3 separate regions of the Homo sapiens genome follow, and regions 1 and 3 are each linked to region 2. The links come from fine-mapping of genetic effects on gene expression. A gene starts in region 2. Each other region holds a variant in brackets. All regions are shown on one strand. Distances are between the middles of the regions.

What was found. PIP is the estimated chance that this variant, and not a neighbour inherited with it, causes the effect. A credible set is the group of variants that fine-mapping cannot tell apart.
Region 1: its variant is the best candidate, but not a certain one, in a credible set for the expression of CNIH4 in pancreas (GTEx, PIP 0.61).
Region 3: its variant is the best candidate, but not a certain one, in a credible set for the expression of CNIH4 in whole blood (TOPMed, PIP 0.54).

What each region holds. Positions count from the first base shown.
Region 1 is chr1:224,463,295-224,474,190 of GRCh38, forward strand. It overlaps a transcript of CNIH3 not described here. Among named protein-coding and RNA genes, the nearest start is that of WDR26, 34 kb to the left of the region's middle. RefSeq lists a silencer at 10,696-10,865. The variant C/A (reference allele first, on the strand shown) is at 6,096.
Region 2 is chr1:224,351,144-224,362,039 of GRCh38, forward strand. It overlaps CNIH4 (cornichon family member 4), which reads left to right and starts at 5,736. Exons shown (of 5, transcript NM_014184.4): 1 at 5,736-5,850; 2 at 9,352-9,420. The coding sequence starts at 5,782. RefSeq lists enhancers at 5,389-5,528, 6,086-6,586 and a silencer at 5,809-6,178.
Region 3 is chr1:224,261,174-224,269,091 of GRCh38, forward strand. NVL (nuclear VCP like) reads right to left here. Exons shown (of 23, transcript NM_002533.4): 18 at 6,861-6,960. Among named protein-coding and RNA genes, the nearest start is that of MIR320B2, 8.0 kb to the left of the region's middle. The variant C/A (reference allele first, on the strand shown) is at 2,963.

The sequences.
Region 1 (10,896 bases), 110 kb after region 2:
CTGACTCTTGGGATGGTCAGTCTTTTGTTAAAATGTTTTGTTAAAAATCCTTTGGCCATTTAAAAAATTGTGTTGTTTTCTCGTTATTAATTTTTGGAGTTATTAGCATGAATACAAGTCTTTTTTTTTTTGAGGCGGAGCTTCACTCTTGTTGCCTAGGCTGGAGTGCAATCGCACGGTCTCTGCTCACAGCAACCTCTGCCTCCCAGGTTCAAGCGATGCTTTTGCCTCAGCCTCCCGAGTAGCTGGGGTTAGGCATGTGCCACCATGCCCGGCTAATTTTGTATTTTTTAATAGAAACGAGGTTTCTCCATGTTGGTTAGGCTGGTCTCGAACTCCCAACCTCAGATGATCCGCCTGCCTCAGCCTCCCAAAGTGCTGGGATTATTGGTGTGAGCCACCGTGCCCGGCCTGATACAAGTCTTTTATCAGATATGTGCTTTGTGATGATTTTTCTCCCAGCTTATGAATTGTCCTCATTTTTTTTTTTTTTTTTTTTTTTTTTTTTTTTTTTTAGAGGGAGTCTCGCTCTGTCGCCCAGGCTGGAGTGCAGTGGCATGATCTCAGTTTACTGCAACCTCTGCCTCCTGGGTTCAAGCCATTCTCCTGCCTCAGCCTCCCGAGTAGCTGGGACTACAGGCACATGCCACCACACCTGGCTAATTTTTGTGTTTTTAGTAGAGACGGGGTTTCACCATATTGGCCAGGCTTGTCTCGAACTCCCGATCTTGTGATCCGCCCACCTCAGCCTCCCAAAGTGCTGGGATTACAGGTGTGAGCCACCGCGCTCGACCTGGATTGTCTTCATTCTTTTCGGAGTATCTTTTGAAGAGCTTAACCTTTAAATTTTGATGGAGTTCACTTTATATTTATTTTTTATGGGTTATGCTCTTGGTGTCATGTCTAAGCAATCTTTGCCCCAAGGCCACAAAATTTTTCTCCAGTGTTTTCTTCTAGAAGTTTTATAGTTTTAGGTTATTCATTTAGGTCAATGCTCTATTTTGAATTGATTTTTTTTTTGAGATGGGGTCTCTATATGTTGCCCAGGCTGTTCTTAAATTCCTAGGCTCAAGGGATCCTCCTGCCTCAGCCTCCCAGGTAGCTGGGACTACAGGCATGTGCTACTGCACCCAGCTAGTTAGTTTAATTTTTGAATAGGTAATACTTTTCCGTGCCTGGCTTTAAGCTAATTTTTATGTATGGTGTGAGTTATGGATCAAAGTTCATTTCTTTCTTTTTTGCATGTGGATATCCAATTGTTCCAGAACTATTTCTTGAAAAAACTATCCTTTCTCCATTGGATTGCCTTGGCACCTTTGTAAAAAATTAGTTCTCCATTTATGTATGGATCTATTTCTGATTTCCATATTCTGTTCCATTTATCTATTTTCCTTATTTATACCAAACCACACTGTTTTGATTCCTGTAGCTTTTAAATAAATCTTGAAGTCAGGTAGCATAAGTCTTCCAGCTGTATTCTTCTTTTTTTTAAAGATTTTATTTCATTTTATTTTATTTAAAGACAGGGTCTTGCTCTATTGCCCAGGCTGAAGTGCAGTGGTGTGATCACAGCTCACTGCAGTCATTAATTCTTGGGCTCAAGTGATATTCTCACCTCAGCCTCCCGTGTAGCTGGGCCCACAGGTGTGTACCACTAGGCCCAGTTAATTTTTTGATTTTTTGTAGAAACAGTCTCACCATGTTGCCCAGGCTGGTCTGAAACTTCTGGACTTGAGCGACCCTCCCACTTTAGCCACCTAAAGTGCTGAGATTAGAGATGTAAGCTGAGGCACCCAGCCAAGATAGTTAGAATTATCTTTTTTTTTTTTTTTGAGACGGAGTTTCGCTCTTGTTGCCCAGGCTGGAGTGCAATGGCACAATCTTGGCTCACCGCAACCTCCACCTCCTGGATTCAAGCGATTCTCCTGCCTCAGCCTCCCAGGTAGCTGGGATTACAGGCATGCACCACCACACCTGACTGATTTTGTATTTTTAGTAGAGACGGGGTTTCTCCGTGTTGGTCAGGCTGGTCTCGAACTCCCGACCTCAGGTCATCTGCCCACCTTGGCCTCCCAAAGTGCTAGGATTACCGGTGTGACCCACCATGCCTGGCTGGTTAGAATTATCTTTAACTCATCACAGTCTACCTTCAAGTTATATTGTATCACTTCACACATAACATAAGTTTACAGGAGTCTACCTTTGTTTCCCTCCTCATAGCTTTTATGCTGTTGTTGTCATACGTTTTACTTACACATTTGTTATAAACCACAGTCTATACTATTATTTTTGCTTGAACAGCCAGTTTTCTTTTTTAGATGTTTTATTTTGAAATAATTATAAACGGGATATTGCAAATAAATGTATAGAAAGGTCCTGTGCATCCTTCACCCCTCCTCCCTCAATGTTGACATTTTGCATAACTACATACCGTATCAAAACCAGGAAATTGGGCGGGTGCTGTGGCTCACGCCTGTAACCACAGCACTTTGGGAGGCTGAGGCAGGCAGATCACCTGATGTCAGGAGTTTGAGACCAGCCTGGCCAACATAGTGAAACCCCATCTCCACTAAAAATACAAAAATGAGCCGGGCATGGTGTCGGGCACCTGTAATCTCAGCTACTCGGGAGGCTGAGGCAGGAGAATCGCTTGAGCCTGGGAGGCGGAGGTTGCAGTGAGCTGAGATCTCGCCATTGCACTCCAGCCTGGGTGATGAGAATGAAACTCCTTCTCAAAAAAACACAAAAAACGAAAAACAAAAACCCAGAAATTGGCATTAGTACAATCCACAGGGTTTAGTCAGATTTTACCAGTTACACATGCACTCATTTGTGTGTGTATGTAGTTCTATGCAGTTTTATCATACATGTAGCTTTGTGTAATTGCCACCACAATCAAGATACAGACCCATTTCATCACCATAAGCCTCCCTGATGCTTTTATAGTCACATCTACCTTCTTTCTCCCCAGTCCATAACCCCAGCAGCCATTCTTCTGTTCTCCATCTTTTAATATTGTTATTCAAATACATTACGTAAATGGAATCACTTATGTAGTGTCATACAGTCTGTAGCTTTTTAAAAAAATCAATCAGCATAATTCCCTTGAGAACCAGCCAAGGCCTAATTCTATCGTAGTTTTTTCCTTTATGTTGCAGAGTAGTATCTGTGGTATGGATGTACTACAGTTTCTTCAACCATTTATACATTGAAGGACATTTGGGTGGTATCTAGTTCTTGGCTATTATAAATAGAGTTGTTATCAACATTCATGTATAGATTGCAGAGCGCATATAGGTTTTCATTTGCCTGGGATAAATGCCCAAGGGTGCAATTGCTGGGTTGTATGGTAAGTGCACTTTTAGTTTTAAAAGAAAATGCCAAAATATTTTCCAGAGTAGCTATCCCATTCTACATTCCTGCCAGCCATGTAAGAGTGATCCAGTTTTTCCCATATCCTTGCCAGAATTTGACATTTTTTATTTTATCACTCTGTTAGGCATGTAGTGATAATGCATTGTGGTTTTAATTTAGATTGCCCTAATCACTGAGGTTGAACATCTTTTTATTAGCTTGTTACCTGTATCTACTCCTCAGTGAAATGTTTTTAGTACACTTGCTAATTATATTGTTTGCTTTTCTACTGTTGAGTTTTGGAAATTCTTTATATTCTAGATACTAAATCCTTTGTTGGATATTTGGCTTGCAAATATTTTCTCCCAGTCTGTAATTTATCTTTTCATTCTCTTGAGACAGGGTTTCACTCTGTTACCCATGCTGGAGTGCAGTGGTGTGATCATGGCTCATTGCAGCCTTGACCTCCTGGGCTCAAGTGATCATCCCACCCCAGCCTCTCACGTGGCTGGGACTACAGGTGTGTGCCACCATACCCAGCTAATTTTTTCTGTTTTTTGTAGAGACATTTCTTGAACTGCTGGAAATGTTGCTGAGGCTGATCTTGAACTGCTAGACTCAAGCCATCTGCCCACCTCTGCCTCCCAAAGTGCTGTGAATACAGGCGTGAGCCACTATGCCTGGCTCTTTTCATTCTCTTAACAGGAGCTTTCACAGAGCAAAATTTTCTAATTCTTAAGAGGTCCAATTTATCAAGTTTTCCTGGATCATAGTTTTTGTTTGTTTGTTTGTTTGTTTTTGTTTTGCTCTCATTGCCTAGGCTGGAGTGCAATAGTGCGATCTCAGCTCACTGCAACCTCTGCCTCCTGGGTTCAAGCAATTCTCCTGCCTCAGCCTCCTGAGTTGCTGGGATTACAGGCAGGTGCCACCAAGCCCGGCTAATTTTTGTATTTTTAGTAGAGACGGGGTTTCACCATATTGGCCAGGCTGGTCTCGAACTCCTGACCTCAGGTGATCCACTCACTTCGACCTCCCATATTGCTGGGATTACAGGCATGAGCCACTGCGCCTGGCTGGGATCATAGTTTTGATATCAAGTTGAAGTACTGTTCTCCCAGCCGTAGGTTTTGAAGATTTCCTCCTGTTTTTTTTTTTTCCAAAAGTTTCATAGTTTTACATGGTATGTTTAAATCAATGATTCATTTTAAGTTAATTTTTGTAAAAGGTATGAGGCTCTTCTTTTTTTTTCTTGGCCTACAGACTTTTTTTTTTTCTTCACCAATTGTTGAAAGGGCCGTCCTTCCTCTATTAAATCATGTTTGTACCTTTTTTCTTTAAAAAAATCAGTTGTACATTCTTTTGTGATTCTATTGTTTCCTCTATTATATTTCATTGATCTACATATTTATTCTTCCACCAGTACTCTACTGTCTTGATTACTGAAGTTATTTAGTAAGCCTTAACATTGGGTAGAATGATTCTTCTTACAACATTCTTCTTTTTCAAAATTGTCGTAACTATTTTAGGTCCTTTACCTTTCCATATAAATTTTAGAATAAGTTATTTATATCTATAAGAAGCCTTGCTGGAATTTGGATAGGAATTATGTAAATCAATTTGGGAAAAATTGATGTTTTTAGTGTTGAGTTTTCTAAGTCATAAACACAGTATTTCTATTTATTTAGGTCTTCTGTGATTTCTTTCATCAACATTTTGTAATTTTCAGCATACAGCTCTTATACATGTTTTGTTAGATTTATAACTAAGTATTTCATTTGCTTTGTAGCAATTGTAAATGGTATTGTGTTTTCAGCTTTGGTTTCTACATGTTTGTTGATTTTTGTGTGTTGATTCTGTGTCCAGTGACCTTCCTTATTAATTTTTAAAATTGCAGTTAAAAATAGATTTATTAGGATTTTCTGTGTAGATAATTGTCATCTACAAATAGGGACAATTTTATTTCTTTCTTTCCAATCTGTCTGCATTTATTGTTTTTCTTTCTTTATTGCATAGGCTAGAACTTTCAGTACTGTGTTGAATAAGAATGATGAGAGTACGTCTGTGGTAGGAGAAGGTGGGAGCATCACTTGAGGCCAGGAGTTAAAGGCTGCAGTGAACTATGATCATGCCACTGCCACTGCACTCCAGCCTGCGTGACAGAGTGAGACCCTGTCTCAAAAAAAAAAAAAAAAAAAGAAAGAATGGTGATGCCATGTTCCTGATATTAGGGGGAAAGCATTCAGTCTTTCAGTCTTTCACCACTAATTATGCTGTTACCTGTAGTTTTTTGGTAGATGCTCTCTATCAAGTTGAGTCAGTTCCTCTCTAATCCTAGTTTGTGAAACTTTTTTTTTTTTGTGCACGTGAATGGGAACTGGATTTTGTAAAATGCTTTTTCTATATCAATATGGTCATATGACTTTTCTTCTTTTTTATTTTATTTTATTTTTTAGACAGGGTCTTGTTCTGTCACTCAGGCTGGAGTTTAGTGGTGCAATCATGGCTCACTGCAGCCTTTACTTTCTGGCGTCAAGTGATCCTCCCACCTCAGCCTCTTGAGAAGCTGGAGCTTCAGGTGCATGCCACCATGCCCAGCTAATTTTTAATTTTTTTTGTAGAGACAGGATTTTGCTATATTTCCCAGGCTGGTCTTGAACTCCTGGACTCAAATGATCCTTCCACCTTGGCCTCCCAAACTGCTGGGATTACAGGTGTGAGCCACTCTGCCCAGCCTGATTTTT[C/A]TTCTTTAGCCTGTTGATATGATGGGTTATATTGACTGATTTTCAAATATTGAACTGGCCTTGCATACCTGTAATAAGTCCAACTTGGTTATGATGTATAATTTTAAAGAATTTTTTATTATTTATTTGTTTTATAGCGACAGAGTCTTGCTCTGTCACCCAGACTGGAGCGCAGTGGTGCAAATCATAGCTAATTGTAATCTCAAACTTCAGGCTCAAGCAATCCCTCCGCCTCAGCCTCCCAAGTAGCTGGGACCACAGGCATGTGCCATCATTCCTGGCTAATTCTTTTTTGATATTGCTGAATTTAATTTATTAATATTTTGTTGAGGACTCAATTATCTCTTAAAGAGACATAAATAATAGGAAAAACATCTTACATATTTTACCTGTGTGGTAACCATTTCTGACACTCTTCATTCCTTTGGTTAGATCAATATTTCCATGTGGTATCATTTTCCTTCTACTTTCAGGCCTTCCTTTAATATTTTTTAAAGTCTGGTAGTGATGAATTCTGCCAGATTTAAAAAAAATCTGAAAACATCTTTATTTTCATTTTTGAAATATGGTTTTTAAAAAACTGGGTGTATAATTTAAACTTGGCAGTTCTTTCTTTCAGTTATTCTTCTTCTTCTTTTTTTTTTTTGGAGACAGAGTCTCGCTTTGTTGCCCAGGCTGGAGTTCAGTGGCGCGATCTCGGCTCACTGCAAGCTCTGCTTCCCGGGTTCATGCCATTTTCCTGCCTCAGCCTCCTGAGTAGCTGGGATTACAGGCACCCGCCACCATGCCCGGCTAATTTTTTGTATTTTTAGTAGAGACGGGGTTTCACTGTGTTAGCCAGGATAGTCTCGATCTCCTGACCTTGTGAGCTACCTGCCTCGGCCTCCCGAAGTGTTGGGATTACAGGCATGAGCCACTGTGCCTGGCCTTTTTTTTTTTTTTTTTTAAGAGGTAGTGTCTCACTCTGTCACCCAGGATGGAGTGCAGTGGCACGATCGTAGCTCACTGCAGCCTTCTTGGACTCAAGTGGTTCTCCTGCCTCATCCTCTCAAGTACCTAGGGCTACAGGTGTGTGCCACCAGGCCCAGCTAATTTTGTAAAACTTTTTTTGTAGAGACAAGGGTCTCCTTGTCTGGCCCAGGCTGGTCTTCAGCTCCTGGCCTCAAGTGACCCTTCTGCCTCGGCCTTTCAAAGTGTTGGGATTACAGGTGTGAGCCACCACACCCAGCCCTCTTTCAGTTGTTATTGTTTTTTGTTTATTTGTAAAAATGGGATCTGCCTATGTTTTGAACTCTTGGGCTCAAGTGATCCTCCCACTTCGGTCTCCCAAAGCGCTGGGTTTACAGGCACAAGCCACCATGCCTGGCCATCTCTTTCAGTTCTTTAAAGATGTTGTTCCATTGTCTTCTTGCTTGCATTGTTTCTTTTTTGGGGGTACATAGTAGGTATGTATATTTATGGTGTACACGAGCTATTTTGATACAGACATACAATATGTAATAATCACATCAGGATAAATGAGATATCCATAACCTCAAGAATTTATCGTTTGTGTTACAAACAATCTAGTTGTACTCTTTTAATTATTTAAAAGTGTACAATTAAATTATTTTTTACTATAGTCACCTCGTTGTGCTAGCAAATACTAGGTTTTTTGTTTGTTTGTTTGTTTGTTTTAGATGAGGTCTTGTTCTGTTGCCCAGGCTGGAGTGCAGTGGCACAATCTCAGCTCACTGCAAGCTGGGTTCAAGTGATTCTCCTGCCTCAGCCTCCCGGGTAGCTGGGACTATAGGCATACGCCACCACATCCAGCTCATGTTTTATATTTTTAGTAGAGACAGGGTCAGGAGTTCGAGACCAGAACTCCTGACCTCATGTGATCTGCCCGCCTTGGCCTCCCAAGGTGCTGGGATTCCAGGCGTGAACCACAGTGCCTGGCAGAAATACTAGCTCTTATTCATTCATTCTATTTTTTTGTACCCATTAACCATCCCCTCTTCCTCCCCACTCCCCCACTACCCTTCCCAGCTTCTGGTAACCATCATTGTACGCTCTATCTCCATGAGTTCAGTTGTTTTAATCTTTAGCTCCTACAAATAAGTAAGAATACGCAAAGTTTGTCTTTCAGTGCCTAGCTTATTTCCTTAACATAACTACCTCCAGTTCTGTTCATGTTGTTGCAAATGACAGAATCTCATTCTCTCTTTTTTTTTTTTTTTGAGATGGAGTCTCGCTCTGTCACCCAGGCTGGAGTGCAGTGGCGTGATCTCGGCTCACCGCAACCTACGCCTCCTGGGTTCAAGCAGTTCTCTGCTGCAGCCTCCTAAGTAGCTGGGACTACGGGTACCTGCCACCATGCCTGGCTAATTTTTTTGTATTTTTAGTAGAGACGGGCTTTCACCATCTTGGCCAGGCTGGTCTTGAACTCCTGACCTCATGATCCACCGGCCTCGGCCTCCCAAAGTGCTGGGATTACAGGTGTGAGCCACCGTGCCCGGCCTCTCATTCTTTTTTTTATAGCTGAATAGTACTCCATTGTGTATATGTACCACATTTTCTTTATCCATTCATTTGTTCATAGACACTTAGGTTGCTTCCAAATCTTGGCTATTGTCAATAGTGCTGCAGTAAACATGGAAGTGCAGATATCTCTTCGATATACTGATTTCCTTTTTTTGGGAGGGTGGGTATTTCCCTAGCAATGGGATGTCTGGATCATATGATAGCTCTATTTTTGTTTTTTTGAGGAACCTCCAAATTGTTCTTCATAGTGGTTGTACTAATTTACATTCCCACCAGCAGTGTATAAGGATTCCCTTTTCTCTACATCCTCACCAGCATTTGTTATTGCCTGTCTTTTGCATAAAAACCATTTAAAATGAAGTGATATCACATTTTCTATATGATAATAGAAGTCATTATATAAAAAAGATACTTGCACATGCATGTTTATAGCAGCACAATTCACAATTTCAAAAATATGGAACCTGCCCAAATGTCCATTAATCTATAAGTGGATAAAGAAAACATGGTATATATGTATACATCATGGAATACTACTCAGCCATAAAAAGGAGAGAAATAATGACATTCGCAGCAACCTGGATGGAATTGGAAATTATTATTCTAAGTGAAGTAACTCAGGAATGGAAAACCAAACATTATATATTCTTACTAATATGTGGGAGCTAAGCTATCAGGACGCAAAGGCATAAGAATGATACATTGGACTTTGGGGACCTGGGGAAAAGGATTGAGGATGGTGAGGGATAAAAGACTACACGCTGGGCACAGTGTACACTGCTAGGGTGATGAGTGCACCACAATCTCAGAAATCACCACTAAAGAACTTATTCATGTAACCAGACACCACCTGTTCCCCAAAAATCCTATTGAAATAAAAAAATTAAAAATCAAAAACCACAAAATTCAGAATTACAGGAGCTTTCCTCTCCCACAACCACCTAAGATTCTGGACAACTATATTTATAATGGGTATCTCAGATGATTCTCATGAATAAGTCATCCTGATAGATTTTAGGGCCAATTTTTCATAAGAATTCAAGGAAACTGTCTTTGCTGGGCTATGTGAAATTACCCAGAGCTGCTTATCTCTCATTGGCAGGAGGGTTTGGCATCAGTTGCAGGTGACTTATTTCCTTTTACTGTGGATGATAGAGATAATTGAAGAAAAAGCCTTAGTTTGTATTTAAAAAAATAAATAAAATAATGGGTTTGGAAGATATTATTTGCAAGCCTCATGGTAACCTCAAATTTAAAAACGTACAATGGATACACAAAAATTAAAAAGCAAAAAATTAAAACATACCACAAGAAAATCATCACCTTCACTAAAAGGAAGACAGGAAGGAAGGAAATAAGAGAAGACCATAAAACAACCAGGAAACAACAAAATGACAGGAATAAGTCCTTACTTATCAATAAAATAAGTAATTGGTAATCGACTACACTCAACAATCAAAAGGCATAGAGTGGCTGAATGGATTAAAAACAAAACAAAACAAAACAAGACCCAGTGATCTGATGCCTAAAAGAAATACACTTCACCACTTCTATGCAAATGGGAACCTAAAAAGAGCAAGAGTAGCTATACTTATATCACACAAAATAGGTTTCAATACAAAAACTATAAAAAGCGACAAAAAGGTCATTATATAATGATAAAGAGGTCAGTTCAGCAAGAGGATATAACAATTATCAATATATATGCATCCAACATGAGAGCACACAGGTATGTAAAGGAAATATTACTAGAGCTAAAGAGAGAGAGAGAGAGACAACAATAGCTGGAAACTTCAACACCCCACTTCCAGCATTGGGCACATCTCCTAGACAGAAAATCAACAAAGAAACATTGGATTTAATCTGCACTATAGACCAAATGGACCTAATAGATATTTACAGAACGTTTCATCCAATGGCTGCAGAACACACATTCTTTTCCTTAGCACATGGATCATTCACAAGGAAAGACCCTATGTTAGGGTACAAAACAAGTCTTAAAACATTCAAAAAATGGAAATAATATCAAATATCTTCTCTGACCACAATAAAATAAAACTAAAAACCAATAACAGGAGGAATTCTGGAAATTATACAAACACAAGGAAATTACACAGTATGTTCCTGAATGACCAGTGGGTCAATGAAGAGATAAAAAAACGAAAGTTTTGGCCAGGCACAGTGGCTCATGCCTGTAATCCCAGAACTTTGGGAGGCCAAGGTGGGCAGATCATGTGAGGTCAGGAGTTCAAGACCAGCCTGACCAACGTGGAGAAAC
Region 2 (10,896 bases):
TTACTGCACTCTAGCCTGGGCGACAGAGTGGGACTCTTGCCTCAAAAAAAAAAAAAAAAAAAATGCGAAATAGCTTGTATTTCCTACTCCATCTCGGGGAATACATGTGAGATGAGGTTTATGATTTTGATAAAATCTGGACTAATATAAATAAAATCTGTCATGATAGTGTGGATCATTCATTCAGGAACCATTTATTAACCACCAGCTATTTATAGAATAGAAAGTATTGGGATATAAAAATTAATAAAATCTGTTACTTTTATCATAATCTAAAGCAGGGGTGTCTAATCTTTTGGCTTCTTTGGGCCACACTGGAAGAATTGTCCTGGGCCACATATAAAACACACTAACACTAATGATAGCTGATGAGATGAAATAAAAAAAATGGCAAAAACAATTTCATAACGTTTTAATAAAGTTTATAAATTTATGGTAGATTGCATTCAATGCCGTTCTGGACCACATGTGGCGTATGGGCAATGGGCTGAACAAGCTTGATCAAACGTGTTCTGTCCAGAATTGGTGGGTTTTTGGTCTCACTGACTTTAAGAATGAAGCCACGGACCCTCGTGGTGTTACAGCTCTTAAGGTGGCACATTTGGAATTTGTTCCTTCTGATGTTCAGATGTGTTCGGAGTTTCCTCCTTCCGGTGGGTTCGTGGTCTCACTGGCTCAGGAGTGAAGCTACAGACCTTCGCGCTGTCACAGCTCATAAAGGCAGCGTGGACCCAAAGAGTGACAAACAGCAGGATTTATTGCAAAGAGCAAAAGAACAAACCTTCCACACTGTGGAAGTGGACCCGAGTGGGTTGCCACTGCTCGCTGGGGCAGCCTGCTTTTATTCTCTTATCTGGCCCCACCCACATCCTGCTGATTGGTAGAGCCCAGTGGTCTGTTTTGACAGGGTGCTGATTGGTGCCTTTACAATCCCTGAGCTAGACACAAACGTTCTCCACATCCGCACCAGAGTAGCTAGATACAGAGGGTGGACTGGTGCATTCACAAACTCTGAGCTAGACACAGGGTGCTGATTGGTGTGTTTACAAACCTTGAGCTAGATACAGAGTGCCGATTGGTGTATTTACAATCCCTGAGCTAGACATAAAGGTTCTCCAAGTCCCGACCAGAGTAGCTACATACAGATTGTCGATTGGTGCATTCACAAACCCTGAGCTAGACACAGGGTGCTGATTGGTGTGTTTACAAACCTTGAGCTAGATACAGAGTGCCAATTGGTGTATTTACAATCCCTTAGCTAGACATAAAGGTTCTCCACGTCCCCACCAGACTCAGGAGCCCAGCTGGCTTCACCCAGTGGATTCACCACGGGGGCTGCAGGTGGAGCTGCCTGCCAGTCCCGTGCCGTGCGCCGGCATTCCTCAGCCCTTGGGTGGTGGATGGGACTGGGCGCCGTGGAGCAGGGAGCGGCGCTCGTCGGGGAGGCTCGGGCCGTACAGGAGCCCACGGAGGTCGGGGAGGCTCAGGCATGGCGGGCCGCAGGTCCCGAGCCCTGCCCGGCGGGAAGGCAACTAAGGCCCGGTGAGAAATTGAGCACAGCAGCTGCTGGCCCAGGTGCTAAGCCTCTCACTGCCCAGGGCCGGCGGGGCCCGCGGGGCCGGCTGGCAGCTCCCAGTGCAGGGCCCGACGAGCCTACGCCCACCCAGAACTCGCGCTGGCCCACAAGCACAGCACGCAGCCCCGGTTCCCGCCCGCGCCTCTGCCTCCACACCTCCCCGCAAGCTGAGGGAGCCGGCTCCGGCCTTGGCCAGCCCAGAAGGGGGCTCCCACAGTGCAGCGGCGGGCTGAAGGACTCCTCAAGTGGCGCCAAAGTGGGAGCCCAGGCAGAGGAGGCGCCGAGAGCGAGCGAGAGCGAGTGAGGGCTGTGACGATTGCCAGCACGCTGTCACCCCTCAGTGTGACTGGCTAAGCACATAAGGAAGATAGTTGATGAGTATTTTTTTTCACCTTAAGATAACTGAGTATGTAATGAATATTCTGATAGAGATATGTACAAGGTACAATGGGAGTTTGGTAATAGCTGGTTTAATTAATTAGATAATCTGTTAATTGTATGTCTAGCTTTAACCTGTGAACCCTTTATGAATCTATGAACCTGTACTGCATCAGGCAAATCCAGTTGGGTTTTTGTGTTTTTTGTTGTTGTTGTTTGCTTATTTTTTTGAGACATAGTTTCATTTTGTTGCCCAGGCTGGAGTGCAATGGAGCAATCTCAGCTCACTGCAACCTCCACCTCCTGGGTTCAAGTGATTCTCCTGCCTCAGCCTCCCAAGTAGCTGGGATTACAGGCATGCACCACCACCCCTGGCTAATTTTGTATTTTTAGTAGAGACGGGGTTTCTCCGTGTTGGTCAGGCTGGTCTCGAACTCCCGACCTCAGGTGATCCGCCCGCCTCGGCCTCCCAAAGTGCTAGGATTACAGGCGTGAATCACCGCGCCCGGCTCAGTTGGTTTTGCCTTCATAGTAATTCTCCTGTTCTACTCTCCATGTGATCTCCCTGCTGACAAACTTGTTTCCCTTTCACACATTCAGTGCGCTAAATAGCCAGAATGAGATTTTAAAAATGTAAATCAGATTAAGCTACTTTTTTGCTTAGAACTCTGCAGTGGTTTCTCATCATATTAGGATAAAAATCCTTGCCAAGGGTCTACAGGGCCCATATAACCTTACCCTGCCTCCTTCTCTTCCTCTCAGCACTCTCTCACCCTTTTCCCCTGTGCTTTAGCCACAAGACCACAGTAGTCTTTTTTTCTATTCCTTTAACACATCAAGCCTCTATATACAACTGGGCCTCTGAAATTATTGTTCCTACTTTCTGAAACATTCTGCCCGCAGACCTTCACATAGCTATTGTTCAAATTTCTACTTAAGTGTCATTTCCTCAGCTTGGCTTTCTCTGATCACTCCGTCTTTCCCCATCCCCTTCCAAGTACTTATGACTGCCTGTCATTAGTATATTTATTTTGTCGTCTGTCTTTCTCACTGTAATGTAAACCACAGGCTTGTGGGGACTTTTCCCAAGGTTTGGAACAGTAGCTCATATATTCTGGCTGCTCAGAAAATATTGGTTGAATGAATAAATAACTTTGACACAACCGCTCACAGAGCTTATCACTGCTTGAAGTTATCTTTTTCCCATACTTTGTTATACTTTATTGCCTGTTCCTCCCACTCACCCTACTAGAGCAGCAACTTGTTTGCCTTGTTTATTTTTATATCTCTGGAGTCTAGAGCAGTTCTTGGCCTATAGCAGGTGTGTTGTCAGTAAATACAGCAGTCTCATCCACAGTTTTGCTTTCACTGGTTTCATTTACCTGAGGTCAATCACAGTCCTAAAATGTTAAATGGAAAATTTCAGAAATATACAATCCATGAATTTTAAATTGTGTGCCACTCTTAGGAGTGTAATGAAATCTCCTGCTGCTCACTTCATCCTGCCTGGGACATGAATTATCTATCCCCTTGTCCAGCATATCCATGCTGTCTATGCCACCTACCTGTTAGTCACGTAGTAGCCATCTTATCAGTTATCAGATTGACTGCAGCAGTATTGCAGTGCTTATGTTCAAGTACCCATTATTGTACTTAACAATGGCCCAAAGTTCAAGAGCAGTGAATACTGGCAATTCAGATATGCCAAAGAGAAGCCATGAAGTGCTCCCTTTAAGTGAAATGGTCAAAGTTCTTGACTTAAGGAAAGAAAAAAAAACCCTATGAGACTGCTAAGATCTATGGTAAGAACCAGTCTTTTATCTGTGAATTTCTGAAAAAGGAAAAAGGAATTTGTGCTAGTTTTGCTGTTGCAACTCAGACTACAAAAGTTATGGCCACAGTGCCTGATAAGTGCTTAGTTAAGATGGAAAAGGCGGCACAGCACAGTGGCTCATGCCTGTAATCCCAGCACTTTGGGAGGTCAAGGTAGGTGGATCACTTGAGGCCAGGAGTTTGAGACCAGCCTGGCCAACATGGCGAAACCCCAACTCTACTAAAAATACAAAAAATTATCTGGGTGTGGTGGCATGCACCTGTAATCTCAGCTACTCCGGAGGCTGAGGCAGGAGAATCGCTTGAACTTGGGAGGTGGAGGTTGCAGAGAGCTGAAATGGCGCCACTGCACTCCAGCCTGGGTGACAGAGTGAACTTCATCTCAGAAAAACTAAAACAACAACCACAAAAAAGATGGAAGAGGCATTACATTTGTGGGTGGAAGACATGAACAGAAAACATGTGCCAATTGATGGCAACGTGTTGAGCCAGAAAGTATTGAGCCTATACAAAGACTTCAGTGAGGGATTCCCTAAAACGAGTGATACCAAGCCACTTACTGCAAGTAATGGATAGTTACATGAATGTAAGAATAGATTTGGACTGAAAAATATAAAAATCACTGGAGAGGCTGCATCTGTCTCTTCATCTTATCACATAGGCATTTTATCATCATACATCATCTCAAAAAGAAGGGTCAGTACAATAAGATATTTTGAGACAGAAAGACCACATTTACATAACTTTTATTACAGTATAATTGTTCTATCTTATTATTACTTGTTAATCTCCTACTGTGCCTGATCTATAAATTAAGCTTTATCATAGGTATGTATATATAGGAAAAAACATAGTACACATAAGGTTTGGTACTATCCATCGTGTCAGGCATCCACTTGGGGGTCTTGGAAAGTAGCCCCTGCAAATACAACTGTATTTGTTAAATGAATGAATGGATGAGTAAGACATCGTATTCACTTCTTAAAGATCTTAAAATCTAGAGAGGAGAGAAACATTGCTGTAGGAGAGGATAAACAAAGGACTGTGAAATCTCTGGAGAAATTGAAATCAGGAAGGGAAGGGCAAATCGCAAAAGTCAAGCCAGGAGCATTAAGTTAGATTTGTGCTTTGAGATGAAAACCCCTTACAAATCCTAAGTCAGGGAATGCAATGGTTCTAGAGCCAACTCTAAAGAAAATTTCACACATGGGAAATACATCCTACTGGATATCCGGATTAAAAGCGTTCAGTAGAGACTGGTGCAGTGGCTCAGGCCTGTAATTCCAGCACTGTGGGAGACTGAGGCAGGCAGATCGCTTGAGCCGAGGAATTCGAGACCAGCCTGGGCAACATGGCAAAAACCCCATCTCTATTAAAAATACAAAAAATTAGCCAGGCGTGGTGGTACATTCCTGTAATCCCAGGTACTCAGGAGGCGGAGGTGGGAGGATCACCTGAGGCCAGGAGGTAGAGGCTGCAGTGAGCTGTGACCATGCCACTGCACTCCAGCCTGGGCGACAGAGTGAGACCCTGTCTCAAAAAATAAAATAAAATGAGAAATAATAAAATAAAATTAGCTGGGCATGTCGGGAGGCTGAGGTGGAAGGATTGCTTGAGCCCAGGAATTCGAGGTCATAGTGAGCTCTATCACGCCACTGCACTCCAGCCTGGACGACAGAGCAAGACCCCAGCTCTTTAAAAGAAAAGCGTTGAGTAAATACTTGTTGATTAATTCCATTTCTGGAAATAATCGGATTTATGAAAGAGGCCCTGCCCACCTCTTTGATATGGACTTGTACTAATGAACTACAATTCCCAGCATGCGTCAGAATTAGGGCCGTAGAGTTTTTTAAAATATGGACTACAACTCCCGGCATGCCACACCAGGATTCGAGGACCACACGCCTCAGCCAGCCCCGGCAAGGGCCTATCAGGGGTGGGTCGGGGCATCCGAGCGGGTTTGACGGAAGGAGCGGCGGCGACGGAGGAGGAGGATGGAGGCGGTGGTGTTCGTCTTCTCTCTCCTCGATTGTTGCGCGCTCATCTTCCTCTCGGTCTACTTCGTATCCTTGCCTGAGGCAGGCGAACGCCTTGCCGGGGGACACGGCTGAGGGTGGGCCAGTTGGGCACCCGGGCAGGTGTGTGGGACTAGGGAGGCGCCCGGCGGCGGGCGTGGGCTCCCTGGGAGCTGGCCTGGCCGGGGCGGTGGCGCGGGCCCCGGAGCGGGTAGGAGAGGCTGGCTGCCCTACCCGACGGGCCCTGCTGCCCTGCACGCACTTGCCCTGCCTGGGTTGCCGGCCGCCCCTCACTCGGGTCCGAGTGGGCCTCTCCGGGCGCGCCCCGTCTCGGCCTGCCCGCCTGCTCTCCGCTCGTCCCCGCGGCGCCCGGACCAGCCCTGCCTGAGCCACGGCCGCCCTCGGGAGAGAAGCGTCGCTGTTTTTCTGGGAGAGGCCCTGCGCCGTGCTCTTCGTCGGATATTGGGGGTCCCAAGGGCGGTCGCTTGCGACAGTCGGGTGCCGGGATAAGTGCGGGCCATTTGCCTCCTCCTGTTCCCCACGCAACACCCCCGGCACCCGCCCCTTTGTTCTGGCGGGTGTTAGTACTTGCAGGGACCTTTCACATCCAGGAGTTGACTCATTCGCCAAAGGAGCGAAGTTGCTTCCTTCACTGTGCCGTTTTGTAGTGAGTGTTGGAAAGGAGTTGTTTTAACAACTGTCTACAAAGTGATTATTTTGGTTGTCCCCGGTGGTTGCAGATCTGTAAATTCAATAACTACATCTGCTGTAGTTCCCAATCGTTTCTCAGCTTTTAAATTTTTCTATCGATCCATGTTAAAACTTAAGTTGCAGTATTCAAACTGTTTTCCAGAGCAATAAATGGTGGTTGAATTTAGCACTGCAGTAGCCATGTCGGCTACAACTCTTCCCATCTCTTGACAAAGCATCTAGGCTTAGTTGTTGCCCAATGTTGTATTGCACCATCCAGGTTTAAGTAATTAAATATAAGAAAAAACGTATGAGGAACTCCGCATTTCAGCTTCCTTTCTTGGAAATCACATGTACCTGTTTCTGATCGGATTAAACCATTTGTTTGCTAGAGCATGCGGGCTTTAGGATAGTCGTACAGAGTATATGTTCAGTGCAGCTTCATTTTTCATTGTGGACTGGCATCCTGTTGTAGTGGAAAGGGACAAAATTTGGAATCAGATTTCCTGGTCAGCTAGCTCTTTGCTTGCACATTATTTCCCTAAGCCTCAGTTTTCTGATCTTTAAAATAGGAAATGTTTATTTCCTAGATATGCACAATGAGAATGGTGCTGAGCACCCTAGCACAGTGCCTGCCCCATAGCTAATGTTCAGTAAATATTGCTCTGCCTTCGTGTCCCCACCCTCCCCAATTGAGCAGCAGTTTTTACTTTGATGATATCTAACGACAAGATTTCTGAGTTTTAGTAGGTTTGGGGAGCTGATTGAAAGGGCAGCATCACTTGCCTAAGTTTTGATGACCTCTATGCCCCTCTTGTGATATAAGGAACTAGAGCAAGCTTGTCCAACCCACGGCCCACGGGCTGCATGTGGTCCAGGACAGCTTTGAATGTGGCCCAACACAAATTTGTAAACTTTCTTAAAACATTATGATTCTTTTTTGGTGATTTTTTTTTAAGTTCATCAGCTATCATTAGTATTAGTGTATTTTATGTGTGGCCCAAGGCAATTCTTCTTCCAGTGTGGCCCAGGGAAGCCAAAAGATTGGACACCCCTGAACTAGAGCTTATGCTCAGAAATGTAGCTGGGTTTTTTCTTTTTGCAGTTTGGAAAACCAGGCTTGATAATTTTAAATAGCCCTGGTTTACACCAATTTATGCATTTAGAGAAATGGTAGGTGGAATGTTTGACTTAGACATTACATTAAAATACATTCGGGGGGTGTTTTGATGAAATTCAGCATATTCTGTATTTTAGAATAGTTGCACTAACTTAGGGATAGGAGGTGGAAAATGGTCACGGTAGACTTAATATAGGATATAAGAGTTTTCTTGGACTTTGAACTGTGGACAAAATCTACAGGAAGGGGAAGAGGTGAATATTCCAAATCAGACACTGGCAAGAGCGAAGGTGCAGAGACAGGTATGTTCGTGGATTTCTGGGCTATGGTTAACGAATAGACCATCTGGAGCACATGGTTGATTTTGGCGTCAGTAGAAGGCTAAGTTGGAAAGGCAGGATTACATCAGATTTTGGAGGGCTTGAATGTTAAGGGTGGGAGGGAAGTCTTTCACTTTTATCCTGCAGGCAATAGAGAGCCATTGAAAATTTTTATTTTCGGTAGTTTATTAGGAAGATGAATCTGCCGAGTGGGTTGGAAACAAGAAAGATTGGAAGATAAACCAACTGGATAGGGTCGTCTGGATTTCAAATAGAGTGCTGGTTGTGGGCAGGTGAAAGGAGGGAATATGTGAGTAGTATTTAGAAGAAATGATTGCCAGGACCTACAAATGAGTGATTATGATATATGAAACAGAAGGCAGAGATAGCTTTCCATATTTTGATCCTGGGCAAGTGATACTTGTGTCAGTAACAGAAATAAAACAAATTGGAGGAAGATCAATCTGTGGAGAAAGTGATGAGTTTGACTTTATTTTATTTTCATGTTTATTTTTGAGACAGAGTCTCACTGTCACCCAGGCTGGAGTGCAGTGGCGCAATCTTGGCTTACTGCTGCCTCCATCTCCTGGGTTCAAGCGATTCTCCTGCCTCAGCCTCTCAAGTAACTGAGACTACAAGTGCCTACCAAATCTGCTGCTCAGACTGGAGCGCACTGGTGTGATTATAGCTCAGTGTAACGTGAATCCTGGGCTCTAGGCATTTTGCTGCCTCACCTTAGCAGTACTGCTACTAATAGCTAGCATTACAGGTGCTCATGCCCGGCTAATGAAAAAAAAAGAAAAAATTTGTAGAGATGGGGGTGAGGTGAGTGAATCACTTGAAGCCAGGAGTTCGAGACCAGCCTGGCTAACATAGTGAAACCCCGTCTCTACTAAAAATACAAAAAATTAGCTGGGTGTGGTGGTGGCGCGCACCTATAGTTCCAGCTACTTGGAAGGCTGAGGCACAAGAATTGCTTGAACCCAGGAGGCAGGGGTAGCAGTGCGTTGGAATTGCGCCACTGCACTACAGCCTGGGTGAAAGAGATGGAGGCTTGCTATGTTGCCTATGCTGATCTTGAACTCCTGCTTCAGGCGATCCTCCTGCCTCAGCTTCCCAAAGTGCTGGGATATTTCCCATTTTTTTTTTTTTAATAGCCATTGTTTTACATTTGAAGAACTCAAACTAAATGTTCTGGTTGGGTCAGATTAGATTTGAGCAAAATAGGATTATTTTGTAAAATAATTTGTTGAAGGAACATGAATGGGAAAATTGAGTTGTCTAATGAGCAAACTTTAGGAAACAACTCATTTTTTTCAAGTCAAATCTAATTCTGCCTTGTAACTGGGATTGCTTTCTGAAACTTAAATACTTAGTTATTATAAAAGAAATATAATAATTCCTTATCTTGATCATCAGATAATTACATTGTCTGATTTAGAATGTGATTACATTAATGCTAGATCATGTTGCTCAAAATTAAACAAGGTAAGACATTTCTTTGCTCATTCTCTGGCATTGAAGCCAGGTCATTTTCCATACTTAAGATTATTATAGATAACAGATGTATTTTTGATTTTAGAGTACATGTTGTCTCTTATTCATTGGAAATTTGATGGAACTGCTGTGTTTTACAATATTTTAGATCATGAAATTATGCTAGAAGATCTGACTTGAAATTTTGTTTCTTTATATGTTGCTTGTCTCTTGTTTACAGCGGATAGCATCTTTACTCAGAGTAGGGAAATGTTCATCATGAGGGTAATTGTTTTTGTCTTCTGCGTTGGAACTCCCTCCTCCCACTCACGGAAAAAAGCTCAAGTCTGTCTTTGGTTGAATGAAAGAAGACCTTTCTTGTGTAGTTTACCGAGAAAATAATTTTTTTTTAATGTATGACTCTTTATTTATTTATTTATTTATTGAGAGAGAAGGTTTCTTGCAGTGGTGATCAGGCTATTCTTGAATTCCTAGGCTCAAGTGATCTGCCTCGGCCTTCTGAGTAGCTGGGACTACAGGCGCATGCCACCATGCCTGGCTAATTTTTTTTTTTTTTTTTTTGAGATGGAGTCTCACTCTGTCACCCAGGCCGGAGTGCAGTGGTGTGATCTGGACTCACTGCAGCCTCTGCCTCCCAGGTTCAAGCGTTTCTCCTGCCTCAGCCTCCCAAGTAGCTGGGATTACAGGCACTGCCACCACACCTGGCTAATTTTTTTTGTATTTTTCATAGAGATGGGGTTTCACCATGTTGGCCAGGCTGGTTTCAAACTCCTGACCTCAAGTGATTCGCCTGCCTCAGCCTCCCAAAGTGTTAGGATTATAGGTGTGAGCCACCGTGCCCAGCCACCTGGCTAATTTTTAAATTTTTTTGTAGACTGGGTCTTGCTATGTGATCTAGACTGGCTTTGAACTCCTGGCCTTAAGCAATCCTGCTGTCTTGGCAAAGTGCTGGGATTACAGGTGTCAGCCACCATGCCTGGCCTAAGCTCCATATTTTAAAAATTTTCATAAATTTTGTTTGATTGTTTGAGGCAGAGTCTCACTCTGTTGCCCAGGCTGGAGTGCAGTGATGCGATCATGGCTCACTGCAGCCTTGACCTCCTAGGCTCAAGCGATCCTTCCACCTCAGCCTCCCATGTAGGTGGGACTACAGGTGTGTGCCACCATACCTGGCTGATTTTTAAAATTTTTTTGTAGAGACAGGGTTTCACTATGTTGCCCAGGCTGGTCTGAAATTCCTAGGCTCAAGTGATCTGCCCTCTTTGGCCTCCCAAAGTGTTAGGATTACAGTTGTGAGCCACTGCGCCCAGCCTCATGTAGCTTCTTGAGATAAGGTAACTGCCAATTAAATTTTGAGGCCTTCCATGTTTGAAAATGTCTTATCTTTACACTTGATTCATAGTTGTCAGAGTACAGGGTTCTAGGCTGGAAAAGATTTTTCTTTCAGAATTTTAAAGACACCCCTTG
Region 3 (7,918 bases), 91 kb before region 2:
TAATTTTTATTTTGTAGAGATGGGGTCTTGCTTTGTTGCCCAGGCTAATCTTGAACTCCTAGCCTTAAGAGATCCTCTTGCCTCAGCCTCCCAAAGTGCTGGGATTACAGGTGTGAGCCACCACACTTGGCCCTTATTTATTTTTTCAACTGAGCCATGCATAGAAGGCAGAAACTCTTTCTGGATTATACTACTGGTAGAAAATACGTAATTATTGAGTAGAAGAGAAAGTAATAAGATATTTGGGTTTCATAATTGTGCAGGAATATCTTTTTTAAACAGCTAGATAATAGATTAAGGGGGAACAGGTAGTTCCCTAACTGAGAACATCGTTTACTGGAGTTGGTATGTGAAAAAGAGAATGCAAAGATGTGCATAGGAGAGACTAAGGTTAGGGTACAAAGAACTGCATTTCCTCTGGTTAAGCAAAAGGAAGTTCGCTTATTTCCAGAAGAAGATGTGGACTTTGATATAGCACACATTAGAAGAGGGCTAGGGCTATGCACGGTGGTTCACACCTGTAATCCCAGCACATTGTGAGGCTGAGGTGGGAGGATCGCTTGAGCCCAGGAGTTTGAGACCAGCCTGGGCAACATAGTGAGACGTCATCTCTACAAAAAAGTTTTTTTTTTTTTTAATTAGCTGGGTGTAGTGGTGCGTGCCTGTAGTCCCAGCTACGTGAGAGGCTGAGGTGGGATGATCTCTTGAGCCTAGGAGGTTGAGGCTGCAGTGAGTGGTGATTGCACTACTGCACTCTAGCCTAGGCTATAGAGTGAGACCCTGTCTCAAAAATACAAATAAATAAATTAAATAAAAGAAGAGGGCTGTCCCAGTTCTTCAGAATAACCAAAGGTGGAATGGTGAGAGGACAGTATTTTCATTTACTTTCTAAGCATTAATACCTCAATAATTGGGAAAAAAATTAAAGGCAAGAAGATGAAAAATAAGAAAAAAGAGGACATTTAGGAGATCAGTCCAGGAGGGTTTAAGATCCAAGTGCTAAGCACACAAATTAAACAAACAAACAAAAAGTCACATAGAAGGAATGAGAATGACATGGAACCTTTAAAAGAAAAAAAGCAATGTCTATAAATTATGAAGAAAAATAATTTTAAACTCAAAATTATATCCCAGCTAGGTTACTAATCAAAATTAGGGTGGAATAAAGATATTTTTAAATATAAAAGAACTATGGGGGATGGTCTCACATTTGGAAAAACAAATCAAATATACAAGCAGTCAAAAAAATCTACTTCCTACATAATCTTTCTTAGAAAAGCCACTGAAAGATAAGTACCAGCAAAATGAGGGTGTAAGCAAGATAAAAAAAGTACACACAAAAAACCCATGAGATCAGAAAAAAAGGGCAAACAAAGGAGAACAGTCAAGGAAGTCCTGAAATAACAGCTGTTTAGACCACAGGCCTAAAGCAACCAGTCCAGATTAGAGCCAGGAAGGTGGAAAGCTCCAGAGGGAGGTCTCCAGAAACAAACAAACAAATGGAACTGGTACATCGTTTGAATAAATAACATCGACAGCTGTATAAAATATGTGATGAACAGTAACAGAAAACAAAGCAAAAGAAAAAAATGAGGGCCACTGAATCCAAGGACAAGAGTTATATGAGAAAGGAAACCTAATCAGTGTCATGCTTGGGTCAGCAGAGAGAAATAGTGACACAGCCATAGTAATGTAAACACTAGTGACTTAACCAAGAGTTCTGATCAAACTATATTACAATACTGGGAGAATGGGGAAGAGGACAGATGATGTGGCAGTGATGGTGGGAGTGGAGGGTATGGAGAAAGGGTGAACATAAGATAACTAAATCTTCATCTACCTTAAAATGAAGTTAATGGGCAGTGTTTAAAATTGATAAGAAATAGCCATAAGAGCATATTTGAAAATATGAAGGAAAAAAATAGCTCAAGTGGTTGCCTCTGGGCAGGGGATTAGAAGGGATGGGAGAGAAAACTACAGTTTTTGTTATAAGCTTTTCCTGCCATTTGATTTGAAACTGGGTCCCTCCCTCTATATGTCAAAATTACAACTGGAGATGAGATTTGGGTGGGGACACAGAGCCAAACCATATCACTCACCAAGGTTCAACTTTTGCACACATGTAGTTTTCTCGTAGGGCTGTTGTGAGGTTTACAATGGTAAAGCATCCAACAGAGGGCCTGGCACTTAGTAGGTGCTCCAAGAACCTAGTTGTTATTACTGGTGATTGTTTTAAATAATATGGACTTGTAAAGAAAATGAAATAAACTTATTTTCATCTCCTTGAACAGACATTTTAGAAAAGTTGGTCTTTTTCTAAAGTGTCCTTTTTCTCCAAGTGTCCCCTATCTCAGAAGTGGCAAAACATTTTACCCAGTATAGGTAAAACAATCTAACAATAAGAATAGCCCTTATTTATTTTCTTTCTCTTATCCCACATCTAATTCCAGAAAATCCTATTAGTTTTACTTTCAAAATGTGTCTCAAATTTTACCACTTCTTACTTCTCCCATTAAGCTCACACAAATTCTCCATGGACTGTAGATCTTCTGGCTCAGAGTATCTTTTGTGTCAAGGACTTCTTTGGAATACAGAAAGTTTATAGACTGCTTCTTAAACATTTTTCAATGTATAAAGTAAAAACATCAGAAAGATTACAAGGTGAAACCCCATCTCTACTAAAAATACAAAATTAGCCGGGTGTGGTGGCACATGCCTGTAATCCCAGCTACTCGGGAGGCTGAGGCAGGAGAATCACTTGAACCTGGGAGGCAGAAGTTGCGGTGAGCCGAGATCATGCCACTGCGCTCCAGTCTGGGCGACAGAGCAAGATTCCGTCTCAAAAACAAACAAACAAACAAACAAACTCCAAAAAGATTATAATTATTTGGCAGCCGGGTTGGGAGAGAGACCAAGGATTGTGAAGACATTGTGAGTAAAGAGGCCACTGTGGAAATGGATT[C/A]TCTGGTCCAGCCACTCCAGCTGATAGTACGTGGATCCAAGATGAACCACCCAGACAAGCCCATCCCAAATTCCTGACCTAAAAATTGTGAGCCAAATAAAAATGGTGATTTTTTTTTTTTTTTGTGAGATGGAGTCTCACTCTGTCGCCCAGGCTGGAATGCAGTGGTGCTATCTGGGCTCACTGCAACCTCCGCCTCCTGGGTTCAAGTGATTCTCCTTCCTGCCTCAGCCTCCTGAGTAGCCGGGATTGCAGGCGCCCACCACCACGCCCAATTAATTTTTGTATTATTAGTAGAGATGGAGCTTCACCATGTTGAGCAGGCTGGTCTTGAACTCTTTACCTCAAGTGATCCTTGGCTTCCCACAGTGCTGGGATTACAGGTGTGAGTCACTGCATCCAGCCACAAATGGTGATTTTAAAGCACTAAGCTTTACAGTAGTTTGTTATGCAGCAACGGCTAACCAGAACATCAAGCAAGAAGGGAATTCTTAAAGCTAAGCAGAGAAGTTATAAGCAATCAAAACAATGTCACGTGATAGTATACAATGGAGCAGAACTGCCAAATAAGCATGAAAACAAGTGAAGAAGATCTAGAACGTTTATTATTATTATTATTTTTTGAGACAGAGTCTCGCTTTGTCACTCAGGCTGGAGTGCAGTGGTGCAATCTCGGCTCACTGCAACCTCCGCTTCCCGGGTTCAAGTGATTCTCCTGCCTCAGCCTCAGCCTCGCAAGTAGCTGGGACTACAGGTGTGTGCCACCATGCCCGGCTAATCTTTTTTAATTTTTAGTAGAGACGGGGTTTCACCATGTTAGCTGATGGTCTCGATCTTCTAACCTTGTGATCCGCCGGCCTCGGCCTCCCAAAGTGTTGGGATTACAGGTGTGAGCCACCGTGCCCGGCCAGAACATTTATTTTTAAATGTAGGTCGTTAATGCAACAGATTTGTTACAGGGGAAAAAAGGATGGAAGAGTTTTAGGGGAAGACAATATACACACATAGGGAAAAAACAAAACACCGGTACCACATTATGATTCATCTGCCATTTCTGCCATTCTTAACACAGGTTTTAAAATAAACAGGCCAGGCGCAGTGGCTCATGCCTGTAATCCCAGCACTTTGGGAGGCCGAGGAAGGCAGATCCTCTGAGGTCAGGAGCCGAGACCAGGCTGGCCAGCATGGTGAAACCCTGTCTCTACTAAAAATACAAAAATTAGCTAGGCGTAGTGGCACGTGCCTGTAGTCCCAGCTACTTGGGAGGCTGAGGGAGAAGAAATCTTTGAACCCAGGAGGCAGAGGTTGCAAGGAGCTGAGATCACACCACTGCACTCCAGCCTGGGCAGTAGACCAAGACTCTGTCTCAAAATAAATAAATAAATAATAAAATAAAATAAACAAACTTAAAATATGGTGCGGGCTGTTAACGATAGAATAGGTTATTACAGGAAACGAAAGATTGATGCTGTGGTTTGAACGTATTCCCCAAATTTCACGTGTTGGAAACTTAATCCCCAATAAAACAGTGTTGAGATGTGGGACCTTTAAAAGGTGATTAGGTCATGAGGGCTCTGCCCTCATGAATGATGCTGGTTTCAAGAGAGTGGGTAAGTTATTACAGGAGTGGACTCTTGATAAAAGGATATGTTTCGCCACTCTCACTATTTTTTAAATAATAGAGACAAGGTCTCACTATGTTGCCCAGGCTGGTCTTAAACTCCCAAGCTCAAGCGATCCTCCTGTCTCAACCTCGTAAAGTGCTAGGATTACAGGCATAAGCCACCATGCCCAGCTTGGCCACTTTCTTTCTTTTTTAATGTCTACTCATTTGTTAACTATGTTTCTGTATGATGTTATTAATATACTGCACATATGACAAGTCATACATCAAAACCAGATAGTACAAACAATTAAACAGATAATAATTTTAGCATTTTCTGTCTCACCACTAACAGATATTAAGCCCATCCTTACTAATTTATGCTCCTCACTTTAAAAAGGATGATCATATACTGGAAAAAACTGGATCAATGTATTTCTTCAATGAGGCTTTTTTGAGAGAAACAGGGCCCTCATTTCCTACTCCCCAGGATCCCCCCTCTCTCTGCTTCTTTCTTCTCCAGACTTCCTCCAGTGAAACTAATCTTTTGCTATACAAAATGCTTTTTGGTAGGCTGAAGAAAACAGTTGTTTAGCTCAGGCAGTTGAGATAAATGTCCAAAGATAGGGTAAAATTAATTAAACTTTATTTGTCCACCTTTACTCATGGGACCATGGTTTCTTCCTGTCCAGGCCACTTTCCTTTTGCTCTCTCATGCATGCTCTTGTGCTCTTCTACCCTTTCGCCTTGGGGTGATGCAGCAAGAAGGCCCTTGACAGATGCAGGCCACTCAGCCTTGACCTTCCCAGCTTCCTGAACTAGAAGAACTGAATCTCTTTTCTTTTTAACACAAATTACCCAGTTTCAGGTATTCTGTTACAGCAAAACAAAACAGACTAAGACAAGCATCTTCTTGAAATATGTGAGAAAAGATCTGTATCTGCTTATGAAAGGGACGATGTGATTCTGTTCAACTCTGAGGGACTTTCTTCTAGGATGACTCTGTGATTTTATGACCTAATGACTGTTCCCACTACTATTACCAAACTGCTTATGAACATGATAACAATTACTAAATAGCTACGTGCTGTTTAACACCACTGTGGCAGATACATTACCAACATCATTTAACTTTTGTGGCAATCCTGCCAATTAAGTATTATCATCTTCATTTAAAAAGTGCCAAAATGATGGTCAGCAAGATAAAGTAATATAGTCCCAAGGTTACTATGGTATAATACAGAATATAACTGGTCTTTGCCCACCTTTCCTGGCATAGATCTTCAAAAATCCTTGCAATTTCCTGAGTGCCAGGAATATCTTTGTTGAGCTAATGTGGTGACGCATAGTGGCCCCACAGATAGCTTCGGGCAGGGGACTGATCACCAGAAAGATCAAGCATGTGATTAGAGTTGTAACTCCGAGCCATCTTCTGCACTTCTGTAGTCTTGAGCCCTTTTCTGAATCCCTCAAAGAATGCTTAACCTTGAAAACAATTTTCAGTAATTATTCAGGGCAGATATAGGGGCATGGCTCCAGCATAAAATCCTAAAAATCTATCTTTAACTTCTACTAGAGTGAAGAGTCTCGTTTTTGTTTCCTATAAGCTAGAGAGAAACCACAAAACACAAATTCTGAAAATACTTTTGTGGTCAAAAGTGTATGCTGGTCGGGTGCAGTGGCTCACGTCTGTAATCCTAGCACTTTGGGAGGCCGAGGTGGGCAGATCACCTGAGGTCAGGAGTTCAAGACCAGCCTGGCCAACATGGCGAAACCCCATCTCTACTAAAAATACAAAAAATAGCCGGGCATGGTGGCAGCACCTGTAATCCCAGCTACTCAGGAGGCTGAGGCAGGAGAATCACTTGAACTCAGGAGGCAGAGGTTGCAGTGAGCCAAGGTCATGCCACTGCATGCCAGCCTGGGTGACAGAGCGAGATTCTGTCTCAAAAAAAAAAAAAAAAAAAAGTGTATGCTGCAACTGTTCTCAGCCAAAAAGAGCTTTCTAAGCACCGACACAGAAAAGCAATCTCATGGGATCCAAGCAGTAATACTATACTTTTTACTATAGCTTATGCAAAAGCTTTCTAAGCCTTTATTTCAACTATGAAGTTTCCTTTCACAGAACCAAAAATGGATTGCCCAAATTTAATCTTCCTTTCCTAGGATGCATGTGAATTATATTGTTTATAAATGCTACTAGTTTTTACTTTTATTTTTAATTATCTGAATCTCTTCTACGGAAATGCTGTAAGTTTTTAGATTCATCTGTGTTACAATATTTTTATTTCTTACCTGGCCTGTTAGTGGCTGCCATAATAAAAACCTGCTGGCGTGCTTCCAGACCATCCATCTCTGTAAGTAGCTGATTCACCACTCGGACACTTGCCCCTGTCTAAAAAGACATAAATCTGGTTCCATCAGCTCTCAATACAAAGGAAAAATACCCATTTTCTTCCACATAAAAATAATACATTTCCCCATGCAAAGGAGATAACAATGATAATTTTCTGAGGCGTCACTATATGCAGACACTGTGCAAAATGTGTTCTCATCAGTGGACCTCCCCAGCAATCCTATTATTATCCAGTCTAAATGAGGAAAGTGAGGCTTAGAGGGATTATTTGTCCAAGTTCTCATCACTAGATAAAGGAAGAAATGAGACTCAATCTCAGGCTGAATGGATCCCAAGGTCTGATGTTTTCGAGTTACTCAAAGATCTAACCGTCACAATACACTTCCCTTGGGGCAAATCTACAGCTAGCTTTCGTTTCTTTGGTAGAGATGGGGTCTTGCTATGCTGTCCAGGCTGGTCGTGACCTCCTGGCCTCAAGCAATCCTCTTGCCTCAGCCTCCCAAAGTGCTGGGATTATAGGTGTGAGCCGCTGCACCCCACCAAGACTAAGCTTTTTTGTTTGTTTGTTTGTTTTGTTTTTTGAGATGAAGTTTCACTCTTGTTGCCCAGAATGGAGTACAATGGTGTGATCTTGGCTCACTGCAACCTCCATCTCCCAGGTTCAAGCAATTCTCCTGCCTCTGCCTCCCAAGTAGCTGGGATTACAGGCGTATGCCACGATGCCTGGCTAATTTTGTAATTTCAGTAGAGATGCGGTTTCACCACGTTGGTCAGGCTGGTCTTCAAACTCCTGACTTCAGGTGATCTGCCCACCTCGGCCTCCCAAAGTGCTGGGATTACAGGAGTGAGCCACTGCGCCCGGCCCTAGACTAAGCTTTTGAACCCCAAATTTCCCAGTATATCAGGTATTCTAGATCTCATTTTATTTTATTTTTAAAGCCAGTCAAATTTAACAGTGGGAGGTTGTATACCAACTTTGGTGAGACTAACTTTTTTT